Regions from separate parts of the Homo sapiens genome. Here region 1 is linked to region 2. Evidence: fine-mapped expression QTL. A gene starts in region 2. The other region holds a variant in brackets. All regions are shown on one strand. Distances are from middle to middle.

Region 1 (12,728 bases), 490 kb after region 2:
AAAAAAGTGCTTTTTAATCAGTTCTTGAAATCAATATAGCAATAAAGCAATACATGAGAAATTATTTTGAAAAAAATTGTATAGGGTGGATGTCACAGAGTATTCTACATGAATACTCATTTCATATCTTGCATGAGGTACTTTATCATTTACACTAAATTATTCTACTTAGGAAACTTCATCACTGGCACATCTTTTTGTAAATAACTACCTTTCCTCAATTTTATATGTCCAATATATTCTACTTTAGGTCAGTTTTTCCCAAACCTCCGCCATTAATTTACTTACCTTTTTATTACCTTTGCCATATTCTAATCCATATTTATTTGTTTCTTTAAATTGATTTTCAATCTTCTTATACTTCTAACTGAGCCTTAAACTATAAAACTATATGTTGATGCATATTTTTCAAATGTACATTAAATAAATACTTTGCTGTTAGCACATAAATTGATAACCATGTACTACCTATAGTTATTATGTCTTCCACTAGACTAGATACCATAGGTATCTGTTTAGGAAAAGCTTTTGGTTGTCTTATATGATCTATATAAATATAGATATTTGATAATACCTGTTTTTATTAACCTGAAGATTGATTGAAATGAAATAAAACTGTGGGAACTTAGTGTATAAAAAAGAACATTATATTTGGTATTACATGAACTAGAAGATCTATCTTCTAATTGCTTTTGTACCTCCTGCTTGCAATATAGTTTTGGGGACGTACATTTCCAAGGTCAAACCAGTTGCTGCATCTACACATTAAAGACATAGAATCATTAAAATAATCTCTAAGATCTCTTTTAGCTCTTAACTTTCTAGGAGAGTCAAAAATTCTTTGTAGCACTCTTGGATGACTTATTTGGGGCAATATGTATTCTAAGCTGCATTACTGCTATATTTTGTAATTAAAATATTTTGTATTACTGGTGAGTATTAACCTTTAATTTTCATATTTCATGTGAGTTGTCTTCTCTTTATTAGAGTTAGATGTTTGTCCTGGTGTCCCAGTTCTATTCCCACTTTCTCATTCAACTACATGCACAGTGTAAGAAGTGGGGTGCTGCTGACATTTAAGGCGTGTAAAAAGGCATGCAAATTATTTAGCTAGCTGAGTTTAGTCACTAGCAGGTAGTAATCATGAGCCATTGTGCATAGTGGATGACAACGGCGAAAATACCTGACTTGTATCTTTCCTATGACATTAGGCAAGCTTATCAAATATTCTGATCCTCCATGTTGTCACCTGAAACAAAGCTTCATTACTGAAGGATATGGGTCAAGGGATGACTGGTCATTCACTGGGATAGTCATGATACTCATTTATATCCCAGTATCAGTCACATTTGACATTCAGCTGGAGTGATGGCAGATGTAGATAACATCGGTCTTTCAGTGTATGCTTCATGGAGGATAATGATGGTTTGCAGCTATTATGTTCAAATGGGACTTAGAAAATAGCCTACTAATTAAATGACTAAATCAAATAAAACTACACATTTTAAAATTTCTCCTTTATTTAAACTTAGCAAATTATATTTTTTGATCTTCTATACTGAGTTTCTGACTTACTCATCTCAGCCCAATTTGTGTATATCTGAGCTTTGAGTGGAATGTGCCCTTCCAAACTATAATACTTCTATAGAATGTGAATATTTTTACACGTTGCTTATGGAACACTCAACTTCTTGAAATTCTCATCTGATTTGCTTTGCTCTTACACAAATTACATGTGCTACACATATATACATTGAAACAAAGCCACTTTTCCAAACAGCAAGTTCTCTTACCATGGAAGTGTGATCCAGTTATCTTTGATATTTCATTTCTCTTAAATATCTTTTAGCAACACACATCTTAGAAAGTGTTGTCATTTTTTATAAGGTGATATATTTTAGGTGAATTTTCATATTTGTAGAAACCTATTTTTTCCACTCTTCACTAAATGAACTCAGATTTGGTTACTCATACTAAATGCTCTGGCTAAACATCAACGAACAGAAATCATTTATCAGTCTAAACCAACTTTATATGCATTTATAGAATATATTCACTTTCATATAAAATTTTACAATTCCGTATATATTAAAGCACTATCTGGACTCAAAATCACTAAATTTGAAGTTTCTATGTAATATAATAACTTCTAAAATGGGAGGTTTATACAATACTACAAAGGAAAATCATATTTGGATCCATGGGTTTTATTTGCTTTTTTGATTTTTTTTCTTTTCAGGATTACAAACAATAAGTCTTACTGTTTTTCAAATTATATCCTTATTTGCTAATTTGATTTACAAATGCACATGATCTTTGAGCACATTTTCTTTGCATCATTCCAATGTTTACGCTGCTAACTTAACTACTTAGATACTTGCCACGTACAGTCTCTAGCTCTTTATGAGAAGCTACAATGGAAGAAATGTGTGACTTGCATTCATAGTACTGTGAATCTGTTCACTCACTGAAATTCACTAAAAACAGAACCTGTTTTCAGCCATTCCTTGTTTCAATCTGCATTCCTTGTCTGAATAACTGTAATAAAATAGGACAAAACAAATTTTGATGGGCAATTTCATCGTAGCCCATCTGTTCGGTTATGCTGGGAGGCAGGAACCTAGTCTTATCTGTCCTGCTGTTTGCAGGGCTGTCTTAATAAAGTTTGGTGAATCAGAACTACAAGGTATTTCATTTACTTCTATGTGTATTCCTGTGTTTTGACTTTCCTTCCCCTGCCCTTCACAGTGGAGTTAAAGCAGGAATCTAGTGGCATCAGAGATTGGAGTCTAAATGAGGTTGAAACTAGACCGGGTATCCTATTCAAGGTAGTCTTGAAAATAGAGCATCAGCGGGACAAGTCCCAGGTAGCCACTAGGGAAAACTGAGATTCAAACACTAGGAAACCAAATATATACTCCAAGTTCAAATGACAAGAGAAATCTAAAGTGAAGTTTCAGAGCCAAGAGTGAGCAGGTGGGCAGAGACCAGATCAGCTCTGGAGCTGATCATAATCCAGTAGGGAGAATTGCTGCCTGTAGCGATGGTTCCTGGAACTACCATTCACCTACTGGAGGCTTCCTAGAATTGAAAGATCATGAAAATGTGGACAACTACCTTAAGAGCTAAAACGAGGCAAAGGTGAGACTTACGGTCATCTCTTACCTTCCTGGTAAAATTTCTCAGATCATCTGATACAATGTAAGACAATCTGCTTGTGATCCATAGGCCACTCGTTCTTCCTCCAAAATGGCCTTGTACATGTTACTATATTTTATTTGAATGTAAACACAATTACCAAGCAGTAAATAATGATTTTCCTTACCCATTGATTAGTGCATGTTGATACTGAAGATGCATTGATTTGTACAAGCCTAGCTTGAAATGGAGCAGATGGGTATGTAAAGGTTTACTCAAAATCAATGTGAATTAGATTGCTGCTCCTCAGTAAAATGAATTATAAGTTAGAATGGCTATTTTCTTTAACTTAATGTAATAGAATGCTGTCTAAGGCAATCTGTTAAGGTAGACTTACTGAAAATGTAGCCTTTGATCTCAAAAATAAGCATTCCCAAAACAACATGATTTAATGAGCAAAGACAATATTATGTCTAAGAAAATGTAGTTAAGGCATTGTAGCAAATGTCCTGGAAAAATGTTTGACAATAAACTTGTTTTCTTTTAAAAAATAATAATCATGTTCTTTCGAGTTATACAGTATTACACTGACTGCTTTTTTTCCTTGATTGTTTGTAAATATTCACATATACATATGTTACAGTGGTTTAATCACTGTACTGCTCACAGTGCAGCAGTGCTGATGGATAGCTTTTGTTAAAGAAATATCATTAACATTTATATCCTTGTTTACTGCTGTTGCTTACAATGTAAAGAAAACAATAATCCATTTATAGTCCACTGGCTGTATATTCAGGCTTTGTTCATTCCTTTAAAAAGAATAGTCCAACCATTCATGTTCCTGAAATATTAAGGGAATAGGCCATTCTTTGTCCAACTTCTTAAATAGATCTTTGAGTTTCGGAAAAACTATGGGGGAGAGAAATGTGTCAAAGGAAGTACCACAGACTGTGTTTTATCCCAGTATAGGGTGCTGCTTTCGCAGAAAAGCGAAAAACATTCCCAAATAAGAGTATATTTTTGTTTTGCTACTGGAATTATTCCTCAGATGGCTTGTGCCTGTTTTTAGAGTGATACAAATTTGCAACGTGTACCTATGTGTGGATGGATGTCTCATAAGTCTATTGTCATAAATGTGACTATTCAGTATATCTTTATTGAGCACGTATGTTGTACCAAGTAACATACTGTGTACTAGAAATTTAAAGAAATAGAAAGCAGAGCTCCTGCTTTCAAGGAACTCAGTTTGATGTGGCACCATGATAGCTCTCAGGCAATTTAAGTCTATACAAGAATTCAGAGAAGGAAGGATGAGATTAATCCAGCCAAAAAGGGTTGAGGCATTTGACTTGGGATTATAAAGATGAATCATACTTTAGAAGCATGGGGAAGGGGAGTGAAGATGGGGTTGGTTAAAAACCTAGGAAATTTGAAAACAAAAAATGAAAATACAAAACACAATTTGGAAAGATGGGTTATGTAAAACAATTGGAGCATGGAGTGAGTGGTGGGGAAGAAAGTAAAGTGATCTTGCATAAATAGCCTAATTTCTCTACATATTTTTCATATTAAACACCCAAAAGAACAGCTTATTTTTGTCTGATATTTAAGTTATGTTTATAAAGATTTTATTGAGCAGAATGTGATCAACACTGCTGGTATTACAAAGCATAGGGGCATGTTGTAGATTAATTTGTATGATGTATCCATATACGGTTTATATGCATATATAGCATAAACGCTTCCTTCAAGATTGGTATATGTGTAACCTAAATTAGTCTCTAGCTCCAATTCTGATACTGTTTAAGTATGTAACATTGGCTAAGTTATAACATTTCTAAAATGTAACTAGACGGTCTATAATTCTTTCAGCCAAAACCTTTTGGAGTGATCTTATGACTTTGTGATTCAAGGCTGAATATTTGGAATCAGACTGTCCTGGATTGAAATCCTAGCTCTCCTGCTTGCCAGTTGTGTAAACTTTATCATTTTGCTGTAATACAGTGCATTCTCTAATCCTCAAATCCCTCTTATATAAAACTAAAAATAGTGTCTATCTCATAGGATTGCCTTTAGATTTAGTGTAAAGTGCTTAGCCCATTTCTGTCACATAGTGAGTACTTAACAGATGCTGCCTATTACTATTGTGCGATTCCATACTGATTAGTAAAAGAATCATATCCACTTAATTTCTGGGCCTTTGAATGTCAAAAACTAGGCCTGTGTCATTCTAATAAGCATGATTAGGCTTTTTAAATAAACATTATTCACCTCAGTCTTGGGCAGTGATTTCTCATGCTTGAATTTTAGTTTTGGCTTTCCTAAGACTTCTTAGTTTAGCTTCTGGCACTCTTTCCAAGACTTATTTATTTTGGAAAACTAATATGACTCAT[C/G]TCTCAAGATAACTGGCCCTTGACTGCCATACTTGATTTAGTTTGCCCACAGTTCTTGGTAAAAGATCCTGCTACTACTGAGCCCAGTCCCATGGAATCAGCTCTAACTAAGCTATCACTTCAGACATAGAAGAGTAAAGAACAAAGAGTAAAGAAGGCAATGAAGATAAACAACTGAGTGTCCACAGGAACTGGTGGCACCCTATTTTCACAAAAGAATTGGCATTAAGAATTGGAATGGTCCTTGGAAGTTTCTATTCTAACACATATTTTCAGAGTGTAAAAAATGATCACAAATTCTACCCCCACCCCCACCCCACCCCACATCAAGAAGTGAGTCTATCTAGTTTCTCGCTTCTTGAGTCTGGACTAGTCTTATTACTTGCTTTTCTGACATACATGACATAGAATAAAATAGAGTAGGTTTTGATTCTCAGACTAAAGATTTGTATATTTCATCTCTCTCTCTCCCCCACCTCTCCTTTCATCTTTTCCTCTCTCTCTTTCTCTTTTTCTCTCGGAGAATGTTTAGCATATGAGCAAGCCAGTTTAAACTATTGGTGGGTGAGAGACCATGTGTAGAGAGGTCCCATTCATCCCAGTCTTTCTAGTCAAAGTCATCTTAAACTAGCCAACCCCCACCCAACCCAAAAGCTCTTGCCAAATGCAAGAGAAAACTTGATATACAAGAAGAAAAAATAAAGCCCAGCTAAGCCCAGACAAATTGTTGACTTACAGAATTATGAGCTAAAAAAACTGGTCATTGTTTTATGCACTAAGTTTTGCATAACTGCTATACTAAGCAATGCATGAATCACCTCTAAAATACTGCCTACAAGTGGCCAAATAGCTATTGCATTAAGGAAGAAATTTTCTCCCCACATTCATTTTCATGAGTGTGAGGATACTATATGGCTCAATAATTAGCGTAGGTCAACCTTTCAAACCCTTTAAAGTATTAAAGTAATCACGTGAGTTTTCATTATAACAGATTTAAATCACAAATGAAATTGTCAGTTTATTTTTGAGTTACCAAATTCCTTACACAGCTTTTAAAGTTGCATTGTACACTGTTTTGCTTTCTCATTTACTTTAACCCAGAAATACTTTCTAAGCTTAAGTACATTCAAAACTTGTTTTTTTCTCACCTGATTCTACTGATCTCTGGGATTTGTTATTTTCAGAATCCATTGTTTGTTTTGCTAACTTTTTCTCGCACTGTATTACCTTTCTTGGCTTAAAAACCCAATAGGCTTGGTAAGCCAGATGTACGCCTGTCCAACCAGCTCACCCCAGTTTGAATCACTACTCTTTCATCTTCTCTGCCTTCCCAGTATGGCTTAGATATTCTCAAGCCTTGGCTTGCTTCCAGTCTTTTCAGAACAGTATTCTGAATTATGTCTATAGCATTTGTTTTAACTTTTTTTTGTGGAGCGGGGGGAAGCTCAAATGTTCTGATTATTTATTCTGTGGATTTCTGCAGTGGACCAGTGAGGATTCTGCCTGTCATAGTTATCTCCATCAATCCATCAGCTAATTGCACGACCTTTTCTTAAAAATGCAATTTTGTTGCAATCACTGTTCTGCACACTCTGACCCATTATGGTGATGAAAGAAAATTAAACCACATTCTAAAATATGAAAAAAAGCAAAGAACAGTGTGATGAAATGAAATGGTTATGTCTATATGCTGAAATGTAAATGTGGGCAAATTCTTTTTCTGTAGGGAGTTTTTATGTGAAGCTCTTTTGGAATAAATATAAAAGATAAAGACTGGAGTTAAATAGAAGTGTTGAATTGACTCCCCAGACCTATGCCTTCCACATCATGTTTATGCAATTGTGTTTTAAAGTCAATGTCTATATTCATCTGAAAATATCACCCAAGTGCTTTATCCCATCTACAAAAAGAATCATATTTGAGAACTGCCTAGTGGGTAGGCATAGACGTCTCAATCCCTGTATAGCCTTGAGATGAAACTATCTAGGGGGTCTAAAAAATGAAAGTCTTCAACATATATCTTTCAATAATTATTTTTTGTGTTAAGAACATTAAAAATCCATCATCCTTGAATTAAAAATTGCATGAGCTAAAAATCACACAGGTTATATATATTGAATGGAATAAAATGAGAAGTATACTATATTGACCAGAGGTAAGATACTGTTGTATTATCCTTACAGAATTTAAATGAAATCATAATTTCTATTTATAGGCAAGCTATATGGTATTGAGACAAGGAAATAATTTACAACTGTTATAGTTATAGAAAGGTTATTTCTAATTTTATCTCATGGAGTTAAAATAGAAACTTAATTTTAAGTTAATCTCACTTTTGGGAGTGTAATAGTGCAACCTCTTTGTTAGCAAGAATATTTTTAACCTAACTGTATAAAGCATTAACACATTGTGTAATATCACTTATCCTGTAGGAAATCATCAAAATCTGATGATTACGGAAGACTGGCTTTACAAGTTCAAGGGAGAATATCTCGACTCCAGTAAATTCCATCAAGACTGAGAAAAGTGTGATCACGGGCAGTTAGAAAGTATAGCAAATTCATATCCTTAGGCTGCTTTCTAAGGATATCAGTGAAAATGAAATCAGACCTTTCTTAAAATGCGGTTATCTAACACAGTATTTTAGAATTAAACTTTTAATCTGTTTTCTTATATGACTATTGAGTATTGTTATCCTTCACTTTTGTTGTTTTGTTTTGTTTTGTTTTGTTTTGTTTTGTTTTGTTTTGTTTTGAGACGGAGTCTCACTCTCTCTCCCGGGCTGGAATGCGATGGCGCGATCTTGGCTCACCGCAACTCCACCTCCCGAGTTCAAGCGATTCCCTTGCCTCAGCCTCCCAAGTAGCTGGAATTACAAGCTCCTGCCACCATACCTGGCTAATTTTTGTATATTTAGTAGAGACGGGGTTTTGCCATGTTGGCTAAGCTGGTCTTGAACTCCTGACCTCAAGTGATTCGCCCGCCTCGGCCTTCCAAAAGTGCTGGGATTACAGGCGTAAGCCACTTCACCAAAGAGTTATCCTTCACTTTTTATGTACATTTGCATTCTTGTACTTTTTGCAAAAATATAACTGCCAGTTTAGCACCTACTAGACAAACTAGTTCAACATCGTTCAATTTTCACATGAAAATTAGCATCCCACCTAGTTGGGGTGATCTTCCCATTCTGTTCTTTTTTCTTTTCAAATGAGTAAAATCATTAACTTCATAGAGGCTTTATTTATCCATTTATCCTATTCACTGAACACCTTTACCAAGTGTGTTACTAGTTTAGTCTCTGGGTTTCTAAGAATAGATACGTTTTTTCCTAAGCAGGTCACAATCAATTGTTGGATATAAATGATTTTCATACAACTAATTCCCAAGCATACCCTTCAATTTAAACCAGAGCAATACAGCTACCCACCCTCAAAGACAAAAGGAAAAATATATTTGTGCTCTATTTATAAATTGCCAATATTTTAAAAAGAGAATGAAAAACTTTGACCTTATGCTAGAACTTGCCGTTTTTATTATAAAAAGTTCCACAATTTCATCTGTGCATTACTATGATTCATCCCAAAATTGTTTTAAAGGGTAAGTATTCCCAATAAAATTAAGATTCAATTTGGAAACAATATATCTATTTCATAAAGTAAGGTGGACTTCTGTGACAAGATCATCCTATAGATGAATTGAGACTTGACTGAAGTAAGGAAATGTTTCTTCACCAGCTTTATTCAGAGAAAGTGGCTTAAGTCATCGACTTAGGATTCCATTGTCTGCATTCTTTCCTGTTAGATACTCAGTAAATATAATTAGATTGATTAACTGACTAAACAAGTCTTACTTACTGCATGAGAAGAACTATCTCTGTAAAAGGAAATCTCCCTTAGCAGCCAAATTTTCTGAATGATGTCTTCAATGTGAAGAGTAATAAGTATTTTCCTCCACAGAAACCTGACCCAATATCAGCCTGGTGAAGAGACCTAGACCTCTGGCCATTAGTGTGAAGTCAATGCTATTGACAATCATCAAAGATTTTCATCCTTTCCACTAGAGTACTTAAGAACTAAATATCATTGATGAGAACTAAAGCCTGTTGATGTGTTCCTGTAATTTTAATTAATAATACATTAAATTTTTTTCCTGATTGTATGAACATATATCATTTAACAATGATTTATACCAAAGCCATTAGGAAAGATTTAGTGTCATATCACAGCCAGTTATTCTCTTTTCTTCTTCCTTACCCCTAAAAAATGTCCCAGATGCAGAAAGTCATAATCTGATATTCAGATATTTACATTTAAAAGGTTCCTGTCTTTTAAAGAGTTTTCAAAGTTCTATCTTTGTCTAAAATATATAGTTTAGAAAATATAATGTACATGTGTATTGCATATATGTATATTACAAATTTAAGGATGTATATGTCACTCGCTATATATGTAATTAACATATTTAATCATGAGCACTATGCCTTGCATATGTAGCACAGCCTCAGACATAAGTCATACCTAGAGAGGAGTGTGATGGAAACAACCAGAACCTCGTAACAAGATTGAGTAAACCAACTGACATCTTTTAGACTGAGATATCAAGTACAATGAGTTAAACTGTTAAAGCAAATTCAAATCTGCTCCAAGTGAGCATTAATTTTTAACATGTATTATACATGTCACGACTTCTGAGCAGTGTTAATCAGGTGAGAATTCTCAGATGAGAACTAAGGTTATATGTCAAGGAAGCGGGAATTTGCGCACCGTGGGAAGAATTCCTCTGTATGATGGACAGAAACAGAGTTGGAGTCCAACAATGATTACTGTGTGGAAAGTGATCACCAGAGAAGAGGGAAGGCGGAAAGTATAGTTACACAAAAAAGCAAGTCTAAGTTTCAATCAGGTGATCTCAAATAAGTCAATTCCAAATGTCACTTAAGGTACAGGGACTCCAACAAACTGTGTCAAACATTTAAGGTGAGCATATAGGGACTGATTAGACTGGATTATGAATGATATGTAAAGGAAGAAATACCATGGAATACTCTCCCTTAGACCAGGTTGGACACTGTGAAATGAATGGGTTTCATTGTTGCTACTTTTTATGTTCATTATTTTAGTTAAATAAACTCCTTTTTTAAAAAAAAATTGAAATTATATAACAGAGTAAAAATAGAATTCACTTTTTACAGTGTAGAGAGTTTCTGGTTATAAAACAGCTGAGATGTAAACCATAAATGAGATGAAACATAAGTGATTCGAACATAAGCAAGATCATTCTAAAAATAACTATCAGGGAACAAGGGAGTTCAAGATGTTAAGATCCCTTATCTATGTGGAAAAATGGATGATAACTTTGTCAATCCCCTCTCTAGAAATGAAAACAAAGAAAAATTTAAAAATGAAAAGGTTATTAGCAAATGGTCCAGAAGTAGGCCAGGCAGTAGAAAGCATGATTTTGTTAGCCATTAGTTACATAGAGCAGGTTATGTACGTCCCTACCTGGAAAGTCATAAAACATTCCTGAAAATCCTAGCTGGCATTTCCAGCAAATTGTGAGAGAACACAGTTTACATTCTGAAGCCCAAGAAGCATTGTTTTTTTAATATTATGTACCATTTCACTACTTACCATTTCAAGAGTATAAAATAACAATAGAATTGGCCTTCTCATTCTGATATTTTAGAAAATTCCACATTTTCACGGTTCCTATTGCAAACAAGAATAAAATCTTTTGGCAGAGCCTGACTATAAAAAGATCTAGAAGCTATTCTTATAATGTAAAAAAAGAGTATGTTTTTATGACCTTGCCAATTTCTCTATTGATAAAGAGTAGGAAGTGTGGATATGATCTATAAACATATTTTTAAATGACAGGCATAGATAAAGAATTCTCTGAAGCAGAATAATTTATGGAACAAAAGCAGTTAAGGATGAAAACATTTATCATGGGAAATGGGAATACTGTGAGTAAAAAGTTCAAGAATAAAGTATGATTTATGATAATAGAGATTCTCACAATATTTTCAGAACTATAGTTGAATAAAAATATGTAGTATTTGATTGAAAACCAAAACAGTGGATTAATGTAACTAGAAAAGTTTGGGTTTGGGCCAACAGCGGACATTGAAATATGAGTATATTTTTAGAATAAACATCTATATATAGCTCCAGTGAATTCACTTTGATTAAAAGATAATTCAATGGATAAATTGGATAAAATATGTAAAAAAAAAATTCTCTGGCTCTGATGACAAAAAGGCAGTTTCACAGATTTGCTATCAGAAATTACTTTTTCATAGAAACCTACATATATTTCTCTTTTATTCTGATATGAGCTTCTCATGTGAGATTAGTCAGTGTGAAGGCCAGTATAGCTCAGACAAAGCTGACCACAGCATAGAAACCCCTGCCAACACTAAGGTCACACCCCTCTCTGGGGTGTGACTGACCAGATGCAGGCCTGTCTTTCCCAAAGAACCATGGCTGCCACTTCTGTGGGATGAAGGCCTTTTTTAATGGAGAATATCTAGTCAAATGTCTCCGTAATATTACCTTCATTGTTCGTAGAGTAAAATGTAAAGGGTTTTAACTTCAGAGGAACTGTGCACAGGCAGGGAGGTGGGTGAAGTTGACCTAATGCAGAGATGGGGAGCCACAGCTCAGGGTCAGGTTTGTCATCTCTTAATTCTGTTTATGCCATTGACTTGTTATTGGATGGTGCACAGGTAATTGATTTATCTGGCTAAGTTTTCTTATTACTAAAATGAAGTTAACATCTGCATCATACAGTTATAGGAACAGGGCCTGGGACAGAGGAAACTCTCGGTAAATGTTGGCTATTGTAATTATTACCTTAGTATGACATCCTCCCGAATTCTTCATAACTTTTTGGTAACTGGTAAGAGATGTTGAGGGGTAACAAGATCCTGCTGGGGTACCATTCTCCTTGACTTCCTTCAAAGGTCAGATTTTGCTGGCCTTAAACCACAAGTCATCAGTAAATGTACCATTGTGTTCCGGAATTGTAAAGTATCTAGTGGAGGCTTTAAGAAGACACCGAGTTGTTGTTGTTGTTGTTGTTGTTTTCAGGATTATACTTAATTTAGTCAAGACAGATTTCTTGTGATGTAGGTTCCGTGTCTTGAATAAATAAGTACAATTCTGGAAAAAAAATGTTTCAAATAATGGTAATATT
Region 2 (12,728 bases):
TACACCATGGAATACTATGCAGCCATAAAAAATGATGAGTTCATGTCCTTTGTAGGGACATGGATGAAATTGGAAATCATCATTCTCAGTAAACTATCGCAAGAACAAAAAACCAAACACCGCATATTCTCACTCATAGGTGGGAATTGAACAATGAGATCACATGGACACAGGAAGGGGAATATCACACTCTGGGGACTGTTGTGGGGTGGGGGGAGGGGGGAGGGATAGCATTGGGAGATATACCTAATGCTAGATGACGAGTTAGTGGGTGCAGCGCACCAGCACGGCACATGTATACATATGTAACTAACCTGCACAATGTGCACATGCACCCTAAAACTTAAAGTATAATAAAAAAAAATAAATGGTTGGATTTATTTATCCATTCAACAGGAATTTACTGTACGAAAGGCACTGTGCTTTGAATAAAGTTACAACAACCACCTCCCTTTATAAACAAATAAATCTATTTTTTTTGCTCTCATATATCCTACTATATAGTGGAGAAAATATATACAAATCACCGTCATGGAAAAATGTAAATTTGCCACTGTGTTTGGTGCAAATGACAGATGATATAAGGCTTTATGGATAATAAGATAAACTAGAGCAAATTTGAGTGTATTAGTATAAAGCTTAGTTTAAAACTAATTATACTTTCTTCATGTCATGAAATTATTGTTACAAAACCTATAATAATAAGATATATTGAATCATAAGACTTCCAAATAAAACAAATAAAACTTTAAAACTTTTAATGAGATATTGCTTTCATAAAGTCAACATTTTAACAAAAGATTTTATGCTTGAAGTAGCTATATTATTTACTGATTGTGACATTTTAAATGATTGTGTAATAGGTTTATCATCATAAATGATGAGAAAATTTGTCTGCACAAGTATAGGTGAGAAAGATTGTAAACATTTGCTTCTATGACCAAATATTTACATCAGTTAAAATCTTATTTAAAATATATCATCTCTACTTTTCTTTCATTAATTGATTCAAATTTTTTTGTGGCTATCCATGGATTTTATCAAATCTATTCAACATAATGATAAAGCTTGAATATGAAGAATGCCCGTGCATTATAAGAACAGTCAATCTGCAGCTGACATGGTTACCACTAAAATAACAAATCAACTATATATGAAATAGAATTACTTAATCTTTATGTTGCTAAATCTTTGTGTTATTAGCTGGAGCTATTCCCACTAGCAGTTTCTGCCCAACCTCCTTGCTTTCCCACCCACAATGGGCTATACTTTGAACTGCACATGCAGGCCATTCTCCAAGAAGCTCTTATCAAGTTTCTTATGATCCAGGCTATCTAATTACGGGCCCTAGCAACTTGAGGCTACACTACTTGGCTACTTCTGATGGGTGTAGTGATCGATATGTTATGGCATATCTATAAACTATTTGTGGTGCATGAGTTGAAAAGCTCAACTCTTAGCCTATTTCAATTTTCTTCTAGAATTTATTATCACCTGACGTAAATACACACCTACTTATTTATTTGGTTAGGATAGCCCTCCCCAACATTTTTGGCCCCAGGGACCAGTTTTGTGGAAGACAATTTTTCCACAGACTGGGAGAGGGGATGGTTTCAGGATGATTTAAGCACATGACGTTTATTGTGTACTTTATTTCTATTATTATTACATTGAAATATATTATGAAATAATTATCTAACTCACCATAATGTAGAATCAGTGGGAGCCCTCGGCTTGTATTCCTGCAACTAGATGGTCCCATCTGGGGGTGATGGGAGATAGTGACAGATCATCAGGCATTAGATTCTCATAAGGAGCACAACCTAGTTCCCTCACATGTGCAGTTCACAATAGGGTTCACACTCCTAAGAGAATCTAATGCTGCTGCTGATCTTACAGGAGGTGGAGCTCAGGCAGTAATGTGAGCAATGAGGAGTGGCTATAAATACAGATGAAGCTTCACTGGCTCACCCATCCCTCATATCCTTCTGTGTGGCCCAGTTCCTAACAGGCCATGGACTGCCATAGGTCTGTGGTTCGGGGGTTGCAGACCTTTGGGTTAGGACATACCTCAGCAAAATGTAGTATTCATGAAGGCAGGATCTATATCTTTTTTCTCACTGCTAGACAGTGCTAGGCATTTTCTTCTTCTCACTGGTAGGCACTGGGAATATAGCAGTGAGCATTAGCCTTAGCTCACTGCTGTATTCCCAGTTCCTAGTAAATAACTGTCATTCTGTAAGTGCTCAATGTATATTCATGGGATGTATGACTGAACCCTAAGTTTTGTGCAGGCTGTCTTTACTTTCCTCTTTGTCTTCAAAACCTATTGCAGTGCTTAGCTCATTGTAAGTACAAAGGAGGTAAGCAGAGCCCCAGAGTATAAAGGTTCTTATAGGGCATGTTAGAGATTTTAGACAATTTCTTAAAATCAATGAGAAGCCACTTAAATGTTATAATTAGAAGAAAATATTATTAGATTTCATTTTAGAAAATAAAGTTATTGCTTTCAGTGTCCCTTAATAATGGCATCTCCATCATCCTACTCATCCAATCTTAATCTCTTAAAGTTATATAATACATTTTCCTTTATCCATCATTCCTAATAATTTGCCAAAACCTGGTAATTTAATTTCAGCAAGACATAACTATCTCACCCTTTATTTCCCTTTAGAATGAGCGCCTTGGTTAATCACATAATGGACAATTGTAGCTGCTAAACTCATATCCCTGTCTTTTGTATACTCTGTAGCTAAGGCCCTATACATTTGGCCTTATATTGGCCAATAGACATTCTTGGCCTGGTAGCCCTTGTATTGGCCTTATAGCCAAGAATTGTACAGTATTGGTCTTACCATTTATCTAAGCAAATACTTGCAATAGCTCCACTTTGATTAAAGATAAATGCCAAACTTTCTGTTTGAAAAAATATGACTTTTTAATAACTTTCAACACTCATTCAGATAAATTATTGTGGTTATTATTCTTATGAGGTAAATAATGATAACTACCTGATTTTTAAAAAAGTATTTAAACTTCAAGAAATATTGCAAAATTACTACAAAGAATTAACACATACCCCTCACCAAAATTTACCAATGGTGTTATAAAAGGTTGCCACATTTGCATCATCATTCTCTCTATAGGTATTTCTGGACCTTACAACCTCTATGTTCTTTTTACTGCAAAATATTTTATTATATTTTTTAAAGATCCAGGGCTTTCTTATATATGATCACAATACAATTAAATTAGGACACTTAATATTGATATAAAACTAATTTGATTATAAATAAAAGTCATACAGTTTAGATATTATAGTTTTTATTAATATTTTGAATTAGATTGTCTCAGTAATGCTCTTTATATTAATAGATATTATTCCCAGTTTGCTCTCCAATTCTGGATTACACATTGCATTTAGTAGTCATGGTTTTTAAATCTCCATTAGTCTGGAATATTTCCTCAGCTTTTCTTTGACTTTCATCACAGTGACATTTTTGAAAAGTATAGGCAAGATATTGTGTAGAATTTTCCTTAATTTAAGGCTTTCTTTGCTTTCTCGTGATTGCATTCAATTATGCATTTTTTAATCTGGAATCCTAAATCAATAATGTTATGTACTTCTCAGTGCATCATATCATGAGGCTCATGATATCACTTGGTCCCATTATTGGTGACTTTAACCTTGGTCAGTTGGTTAAGGTGATGTTTACCAGATTTATCCACTACATGTAATTTATTATTCGTTTGTAATTAAGGATCTATAGTATATTATAAAAACAGCCTCAAGTTATTTTTGTGTATGCATTCTCCTTGAAATATGGCATTATAGTTTCTCCCATCAAGACATGGACTATATTATCTATGTTTGGGCCATGTAACTTCCATGGCTAATGAGACACCAGCAAATGTACGTCCACAGAATCTCAGAGTACTTCACATTGGAGCTTGCACTCCCTTGTTGCTTTTTGGAGCCCTGCAACTACGACTACTGCTAGCCTATTGAAGGATGATGGGCTAGATTAAACAAAAGACAAAACATTGCAGCTGAGTCCCACACCCTCAAGACTAATAAGTATGCCACACCAGACAAGTGAGTGAAGCCATCCTAGATCTCTAAACCAAACTGAGCTAGCCAGGGCAGAAACCAACCTGACAACCCACAGAGCTTTGAGAAATTACAGATGTTTATTGGTTGGGGCTAATAAGTTTTGGAATGGTGTGTTATGCACCAAAAGCCAATACTTTCTAGGGTGATACTTTGGGACTACGTAAATATCCAATTACCCAAATAAATTTTACCAAGTTTATGATTCTGCCTAAGTTAAATATTATCACAAAGACTGCAAAATGGAATTGCGCCTTTTTTTAAGAGATGAAACATGTAAGAATGGGGGCTTATTTGTCTTTGAAAAACATAGGACTAGTAAGTAGCTGTATCAGCATCAGAACCCCAATCTTTTACCTGGTCCACAGTTTTTCTCAGTATGCCATGTAGAGGTGAGTGACCTGATGTTAGGACTGGAATTCACTAGAGAGAGCAGTAGAGAGACATTCCAGAGTGTTATGAGTGGGACCCTGTGTACTCACACATGCACAGAAGCATCTCTGGTAAATGCTCCATAATTGACGGTAGGGCAGGATGGACAATGTAGGAGGAGACATTAATACAGTTATTAACATAGAAATTTAAATGATACTTGACTCACGAAAAGATATAAAGATAATATCTCTGGAAATTGCCTTTCATGAGTATAATCAAGAATGGCATTGACATACTAGATTATGATTAATAGTATCATATGTTTGTCAAACGTGGCTGTTTAATATTTTTATGTAGTCGTTATATCCTCCCCCAATTCTGCCAAAAACATCCTATAAGATGTGTGAAGTGACACTGTGAGAAGCAAGGACCCCTGTCAGCCCTTATTACAAACAAGACAACTGACACCCGAAGGGCCAAAACTAGCCAAGAGCCACAGTGAATAAATTGCCAAGCAGGCACTTGAACTCGGCAATCCCAATTTCCTAGAAAAGTTCCTCTCCCATGGCAGTGGGGGACAGGTCCCAAGTCTTTGAGACGCTAATAATGTCTGCGTCTTAGGTTTCTGCCTTGTGCCAGGCACTGTTCTAAAATCTTTACATGTATTTAAACTCAGTACCATGGGGGTATTGGTACAACACATTAACTGAGACATTCATACGTCCAGGTACTTCGGAGTGGGTGTGTGTTTAATATCATACCTACTTGCCTGAGAAAGGAATTCAAAGCCCCACTTTTTTCTTTACCTCTTCATAAAAATTTGAGAGCCACAAGGAAGCGCTCTGTGTTTCCAGTACTCTTACAGTGCGTTCGGTGGCAGTAGTCACCGCCAACCAGAACACTAGGATCCTGCCAGGGTGTAGATACTGTAACCAACAAGAGGCCAACCTCCGTCCTTTCTGCGGAGGGCGCCGAAGCGTCAAGTACCCCGCAGCATCTCTCGGCTGGAGAGCCGACGGCAAGGGTGGGGTTGCCGGCGCTTTCCCCGAGGGCAGTCTCTGATCCTCCAGCTCCCCTCTAAGAGGCTCCCTGGTGCATTGGGCGAACGCGGTGCACGCAGGCCGGCTTTGGCGTTGTGGGGCCCCAAAGCGGCCAGGGGTCGCGAGGCGCCCTCCGGCGAGAGGAGCTGACCCCAGGGTTGCTCTTGGGGGCCGTGCCTGCCAAGTATCGCGGGACTTGCGCACATCGCAGAAGCGCCAGCTCCAGAAGCAGCTGGAGCGCGCTCGGTGCGCACCGCCCCAGCCCGGGGAGGAGCGGGAGCAGGGAGGGAGGAGGGCTGGGGGTGCTGGTTACGTAAATGATACTAGCCCAGTGAGAGGCCTCCAGGCTGGGGCTACGAGAGGAGGAGGGACCACGCGAGGAGGAGGGACCGGGAGGCGGCGGGCTGGGGTGGGAGGGGGGCGGGGGCCGGGGAGAAGTGACCAGGCGGCGGCGGCTCTGCTGAGGTGACAACGTGCTAGCAGCCCTCGCTCGCTCTGGGCGCCTCCTCGGCCTCAGCGTCCGCTCTGGCCGCGCTCGAGGAGCCCTTCAGCCCGCCGCTGCGCTATGAAGGCCCCTCTCTGGGGCTGGCCGAGGCTGGAGCCGGCTCCCTCTGCTCGCGGGCAAGTGTGAAGAGAGAGGCGCGGGCGGGAGCCGGGGCTGCGCGCGGCGCTCGCGGGCCGGCGCGGGTTCCAGGTGAGCGCGGACTCGGCGAGCCCCGCACTCGGCGCGGCCGGCCGGCGCCTGCTGGGCTTGATCTGAGGCTGAATCCCGTGTGTGGACCGCCGTTCCCTCTTCGCGGGATCGTTGGCCAGGATAGCAGGTCTCCGTCTCTTTCTCGCTTCCCCTCTTTTCCTCTTGATTGTCTGGGACGAGCTCCCTCTGGGCTGCCAGAGTGCCGGGGCTAGGTGCCGCAAAGTCCCGCGGCGAGTGCCGGGGCGCGGAGCCGAGCGCCCCGGGCCGGTCCCAGGGCAAAGGCAGGGGCGCGGGCGGACCTGGCGACGCGGCCTCCCGGGAGCTCCGAGTGCGCTCGCTTGCGGGGCTGCAGGTGTTGCGGGAGGACCGCGTGGCGCGGAACTTTCTGCCGCCGCCCACCTTCTGCTCTGCTTTTCTGGCTACCCCGGTGAGTTGTTGGTGGCGGGGGGGGGGGGGGGAGCGGCTCTGGCCCCCTCTGCGTTCTGGTGACGTTCCTCCGCGGGGGTGGCTCGGCCTCCAAGCCCAGACAACTTTCTCGCACCAGCTGCAGGCAGCCCCGGCTGCGTTGCGGGCGTTTCTACTCGACCCGACACCAGGCGCTCCCTGGGTCTTGGGTGTCTTCCTCGACGGTTGCCTTCGTATAGTGCCCCCTTTGCCTCGCTTTTTCAGAGTCCTCTTGCCTCTCATTCTCGCCGTGTGTGTCTCTGCCTCTGTTTCTCTTTCTGAGCCTTGGTCCCCTCAGTCCACACTCTCCGGCCATGTATCTGTTTTTTTCTCTTATTCTGTTTCCCTCTTTCTTTCTTGGGATATCTGTGTCCCTGTTAATCTGTCTTTCCTTTTGTCTCTCCGTTTTGCAACATTTGTTCTCTTTCTGTGTCTGCTTCTCGCAGCTTATCTCTGTCTCCCTCTGTCATCTCTCTGCCCCGTCTTCCCGAACACCAGCCCCGCGATCCCGAAGCGCCTTGGTTAGGGGAGCAAGCCCTGGCGCATCTAATGGGTATCTCCAGGTGCAGAGATTTTCCTGCGGGGTCAGTGGGGACGCGGAGGAGACAGCCTGCCCTTGTCCAGGCTGTCGTGGACCTGAAGGAGGGGCGCAAGGGGTTAGAGTGGAGGGCACCGCAGCAGGCTCCCCTTGCCGGGTCCGAGGGCGCTGCGCTGCTGCGAACCTGAGCGCACTGAGGCTGCTACTCTGGACAGCGAAAGCTGCGCAAGCCCCTCCCGCATACCCGATTCTTTGACTATGGTTAGTTGAATTTCCAGGAGGAGAGTCTGCCTCCCCAACCTTTATAGCCAGCTGCAGAAGAACGGACAGTGAGCAGGCAAACATAGATGCTTTGGGGTTCAGGGAAACTAACCTCGAAAGGGTGGGAGCTTTCTTCAGGCAAAGGTGTTGCTAGCAGAGGAGAGGAGCTTTGGGGACTGAGGTATGCCTGCCTTAAACTACCATGCATTCATTGCTTAGGAAAGCGGTTTCCTTGGAGAGATCGTGGTCAGCCTTCCCTGAAACAACATAACAACATAGAGGTTTTATTCGCAAGGCTAAAGGCACTTGGCTGCCAAAGCCCCCTTGAAATTTCTGGTATCCTTGAATATTTTCAGCTTTATGTGAAAGCTGCCTTTCCTCAGAGTCTCAGTCCGTCTCTCTCTCTTTCTCTCTCTCTCTTTTTCTGTGTCTCTCTCTCTCGCTGTCTCCCTGTCTCTCTCTCTCTGTCTCGTTTGCGTTCATGCCCTCTAGTGTTAAAGAAACCTGCTGGTTCGAGAATATTGAAAAGTAAGGTCAACCTATTGGTTATTTACTTTTGGACCTCTCACCTTCCGGGATAATTCTCCTTGTATTACACGCATCCTTTCCTTTTCCTCAAAGAATGACTTTTGCATTACATTACTAATCTTTCTTTCCCCCCGCACCCCCCTCCCGCAATCTCTGTTTTTTTTTTTTTTTTCTTTCCCCACGTCTCCTGCAGAATAAGAACCTTCATATTGAAACCCTGTTCGTTTGATTTGGGAATTGGATAGGTCTGGAGAATTTGCGTAGCCTAAGGCAGACTTTGAACATTAAAAAGATGCATTTCTCTGCACTGTTTGCCATAAACCAGGATTTCACATCTCTCCTTTAGCCCCTATCCACCTTCAATTCCATGGAGAATTTTCCTGGCTGCTTCTGCTTGTTTAAATAAATGCTTTTATTTCACCATTTCTGTGATGCTTATCCCATTCCAGGGCTTAAGGTACTTGCTTAAGTAGGGGCACTGTGTCTCGGATCCGCTTTGGAGAGGAAGAATAGAAAGCTTTTCTAAAGGAATTATAGGGTACTGCTGGTATAGATTAATTCCAGTTCGGAAAGTCCTGAGTGGGAATGTGAGAATGGAGGCTGTCTCAGATATGTAGTCCCTAGGACAGTGTGGGGAAACTAGTAAGTGCTTAATAAAACTTGTTGGTTGATTGATTAGCATGCAGCGGATCATAGGCTTCCAAGTTACCAGGTATGCTAAGGAGCCTGCAGCTAAATTCCACCTCCCCGCTCCTTTTTTGGGAGGTTTCATTTAGATTTTTTATGAATGGTAATTGAGAACTAGTAGAAGGGATATTGAAACAGGGGTCTTCTGCTTCTTTGTAGTTCATGTTATTGCTTGAATTTGCCCCTTTTTGCAAGTCTACAACTTGGCTGGTGTTCTTTAACACAGTCATTGCAGAATTGAAGAAATGAGTTTAGAGGGGCCCTGAAATGTGGCATCTCTCAATCTCCTTACCTGAAAGTAAGTTGGGACATGGCATCATTTTTGGGTGAATACTTTCATGTGGTTTCTAACAAGTGAAAAGTTCTCTCTTTTAATATAAAGAACAGATATATCAGCTTAAAATACTTGGGGGCTATATATTGATCTGTAAGCTGGATCACTTACCCTAAATAATTTATGGATTCCCCTACTGCTTCATATATATATATATATATGAGATGTGCGATACTGCATGAATGTGAGAATTTCCTAAAGTACCTGGAAACATAATGCCTCCTAATTCAAAGTAATAATAGAAATCCATGGGCAGCAATACTACTTTCTTGATGATATGCTAGTCACCTCTTAAAATAGTTGCTAATTTATCATGAGTATGGTGCAGGAGCATGTTCAAAGCAATTTTTCTTTAAAAATATTATTTATAAATCACTTGATACTGTACCCAATTTTTATATTTAAAAATAGCAAAGACATAATGAAGGTGGAAAATCTGATATTGTTTGAGAGACCTTCTATTTGTTTTACAGGTTTAACTTATGCATCTAACTTTTTAACTTACTGGGCAGTCATTTCAGTTTAAACAGTTATGTCAGAGTGAACTATGTTGTTATCATGCCAAGTTGATTTCTAGAAATAGTAGTTGTAACAGGAGCATTTTCATGTAATAGAGCTTGTACAGCTTATAAAGACTTCGGGATTTTAGGAAAGGGGTGAGATAAGAAGTAACAGTAACAAATGGGTATTTTTATTCTTTATGAATGGGCAGATGAAGAGAATCCTGGTGTTTCTGAATAATAACAGTCGAGAAAATGCTTGAGAATAAAGTAGGAATAGAATTAAGCCTTACTGTCTAAAATAAATTATAATGCTACATATCTCTGTTAGGTGTTCATTGTCCTTTTAAAAATGGACACTTCATATAGTTATGACCTTTAACTAATTTGCCTTATTAGACATGATATTTTAAAGAGAAACCTCTTGCAACAAACAACACATTCTTGACAGCGACTCTTAGTACATCACCTTCTTGTATTTGTGTCCCTGTCAGAAGGAACATGTAGACATCTTAAATCTAATGGGATCTAACAGGATCACTGCTTTGAAGTCTGAATGACCATATGCCTAATTATCAAAGGATTTAAACTGGGCTTTGGTTCTAAATCCTTCCCTCTGCTCTTGTCATCAAAATAAACACATGTGAAACATCAAATCAAGTCCTACATATATATACTCATATTTATTCTGACAACCTATTTAATGACATTTCTAACAGCAACCCCCCCACACTACACACACACACACACACACACACACACACACATACACACACAGTGGCTAAGCATATGTTTGAAAACGTAAATCACATTTAAAGATCTGGCACTGTCTGCTTTGATAAACCATTTATTATTTTATCAGATTAGACTTCTGTTTACAATTTCTATCAAGGCACATTGTTGAAGGACTTCTGCCATTCAAATATATGCATACCTGTGTTTGAAAAGTCTGGTTTTTCATTGTGAAATTTAGCTTTTCAAGGAAATTTATGAAAATGAATACATTTAATTCAGTAATAGTCATCCGTTTGGGGCATTATAAACAATTATATCTAGTTTTTGGGAGGAGCAGTGTAAACCAAACAGACTTTAATCACTTGATATTTGTTTCTTCTTGATTTCATATTTAGACCTGTGTCTGTGTTTTCAGTGTAGTGTATCTATTATAATACATTTAATTGGTGTTAGCTTGATTACCAAGAAATGATTACAGGTGGCTAAAGACATCTGTGTGATTCTGATTACTGTGTGCTCTCATGTCCTTAAATTCATTTATAGCTATGAGTTTTTCAAGCTGTTTTTAGTATGTCTTTAGACTTATACATTTAAATGAAATTCTTAATTTTTAAAAGTTATCACTGCAGAGATTGATGGGATCTAAAATTTAAATTGTTAAGTTAAAGTTGGGAGACATGCTTTTCCTTTAAGGGCTCAACTTCATTCAATGTCCACGTAATTAGAGTCCTCATGAACTGTCAGGCTCTCTCTTAATGTGTACACTACCATAATTACCTACCCTTCAGAAATGAACTCAAACACAATTCAAAATATCAGTTATTAAAAATTGTTCCAGGTTAATGGTTAATCCTCTCAAGATAGTTTGAGAGGGATGTAGGGAGAAGAATGACTATTATTACCATAGATATGAACATATTTGTTATCATCTTGTAGACTATGTGAGAAAATTAAATACAATGTCCATAATAAATACTTAGATTTCTTTCATATTTTTTAAAGATATGCTCATTGTTAAGATAGATGGGGGCTGTGCAAGATATATCATGTTAAGGTTTTAACATGAAGAGGAATTAATTGGGACTCTGTTTCATATATTCCACTACATTGAATTGTCACTTAAATCTTATTTAAGCTCTTATACAACATTTTAGGAAGAGTGTGATTAATCTGCTTGTTGACACATTGGTGAACGTAATGCATGTGGTGAGTAGCCACTGTAAACAGAAAGAAGAATTTAAAAGCATAGCACAATCAAAAATCATCCAAATAACATCTTGAAGATAGTAGTAAATGTCAACTTAGTCTCTTGTCTTATATTAATTGCCTTGATATTACAAGCAAAGCACCTCTTTTTTGTTAATAAAGTGGATTTTGACATATGAGGAGGATTATGTAGCTTAGAAGCATAATAACTGACTTAATTTCCTCTTGAGATTATTATTATATAATTAGTTTCAGATAGAGAAGGTGAGATTTATATGACTATCAAAACCCCAATGAAATACAACCATTAGTTTAAAGAAAGAAAAATGGAATAAAATATATGTAAAGGTGTATCCATTCCAGCTTATTTATGAAGAAGGTAAGATGGTGTATTGGGTTATAAATTGATAAAGTGGCTAAAATTCGTTGGTTGTTTACTTTGTATTTGTACTGTGGTAAGTAAACATCTGGCAGGTCTTAACATGTTTTATCTTTATAACAACAATATGAGTAATAGTATGTTACTGTTGCCATTGTATAAATGAGGCATCACCTCAGAATCACACAGCTAATATGTGTGAGCATCAAGGATGACACCAGTTTATTCTGCCTTGAAGCCAATAATCTAATAGTTCTCAGTCTGACATTTTCACTGACTGATAATTTAAAAAAATCAAGTGGTAAACTTTATGTGATTATTTTCTTTTGTATAGTAAGAATGATTGAAAAAGTCTACTTCTATCATCTCAATTTTATAAAAGTGGATATTTTAACACCAAATAACATGGAAGAACTGAATCTCAAAATAAATAATAGTTATTTAAAGAGAATAAATTAAGCTCCCTGTACATTTTTCCACATTGTACTCATTTTCCTAATTTCACCCAAGACTGATGAAAATTTCATCACAAAAAATTTCCCGTAGATTGTGCTTGGATGCCCATCTTACTCTGAACCACTGTGATATGCTGCCTACTCTATGCACCCACACAGCTCTGGCCGGCATGGTCATCATATTCATGACTTGATGACATAATGCTTATAGCTTATTCCATTCTCTTCCTAGTTTCAAATAAAATTTGGACCTAGGAAAGATGCTAGCACTTGCTTTAGCCTTAGTTTACTGTGTTAATGTTTGTTGAAATGATTGGAAGATTAGGGATGACTTGTTCCTTCTTGGTAGTTAACTGCCATTTACTGACACTAAGATGGTGCCACTCTGTGTCCTGGGATTGGAAATGAATATTGGGCAATGACAAAAAGAGCTTGTCAGAA

Direction of the effects. Positions count from the first base shown, and alleles are read on the strand shown. Sizes are in standard deviations (SD) of each study's normalised expression.
For the expression in aorta of the gene that starts at base 5,966 in region 2, G is the high allele of the variant in region 1 and C is the other (large effect, 1.0 SD a copy in GTEx).

The links.
Region 1: its variant is fine-mapped to the expression of GALNT13 in aorta (GTEx, PIP above 0.99). The same link has a PIP of 0.9 or more in coronary artery and tibial artery.

The regions. Positions count from the first base shown.
Region 1 is chr2:154,356,405-154,369,132 of GRCh38, forward strand. All of the region lies in intron 9 of GALNT13 (polypeptide N-acetylgalactosaminyltransferase 13), which reads left to right. Among named protein-coding and RNA genes, the nearest start is that of GALNT13-AS1, 95 kb to the right of the region's middle. The variant C/G (reference allele first, on the strand shown) is at 5,532.
Region 2 is chr2:153,865,957-153,878,684 of GRCh38, forward strand. GALNT13 (polypeptide N-acetylgalactosaminyltransferase 13) reads left to right here and starts at 5,966. Exons shown (of 13, transcript NM_052917.4): 1 at 5,966-6,347.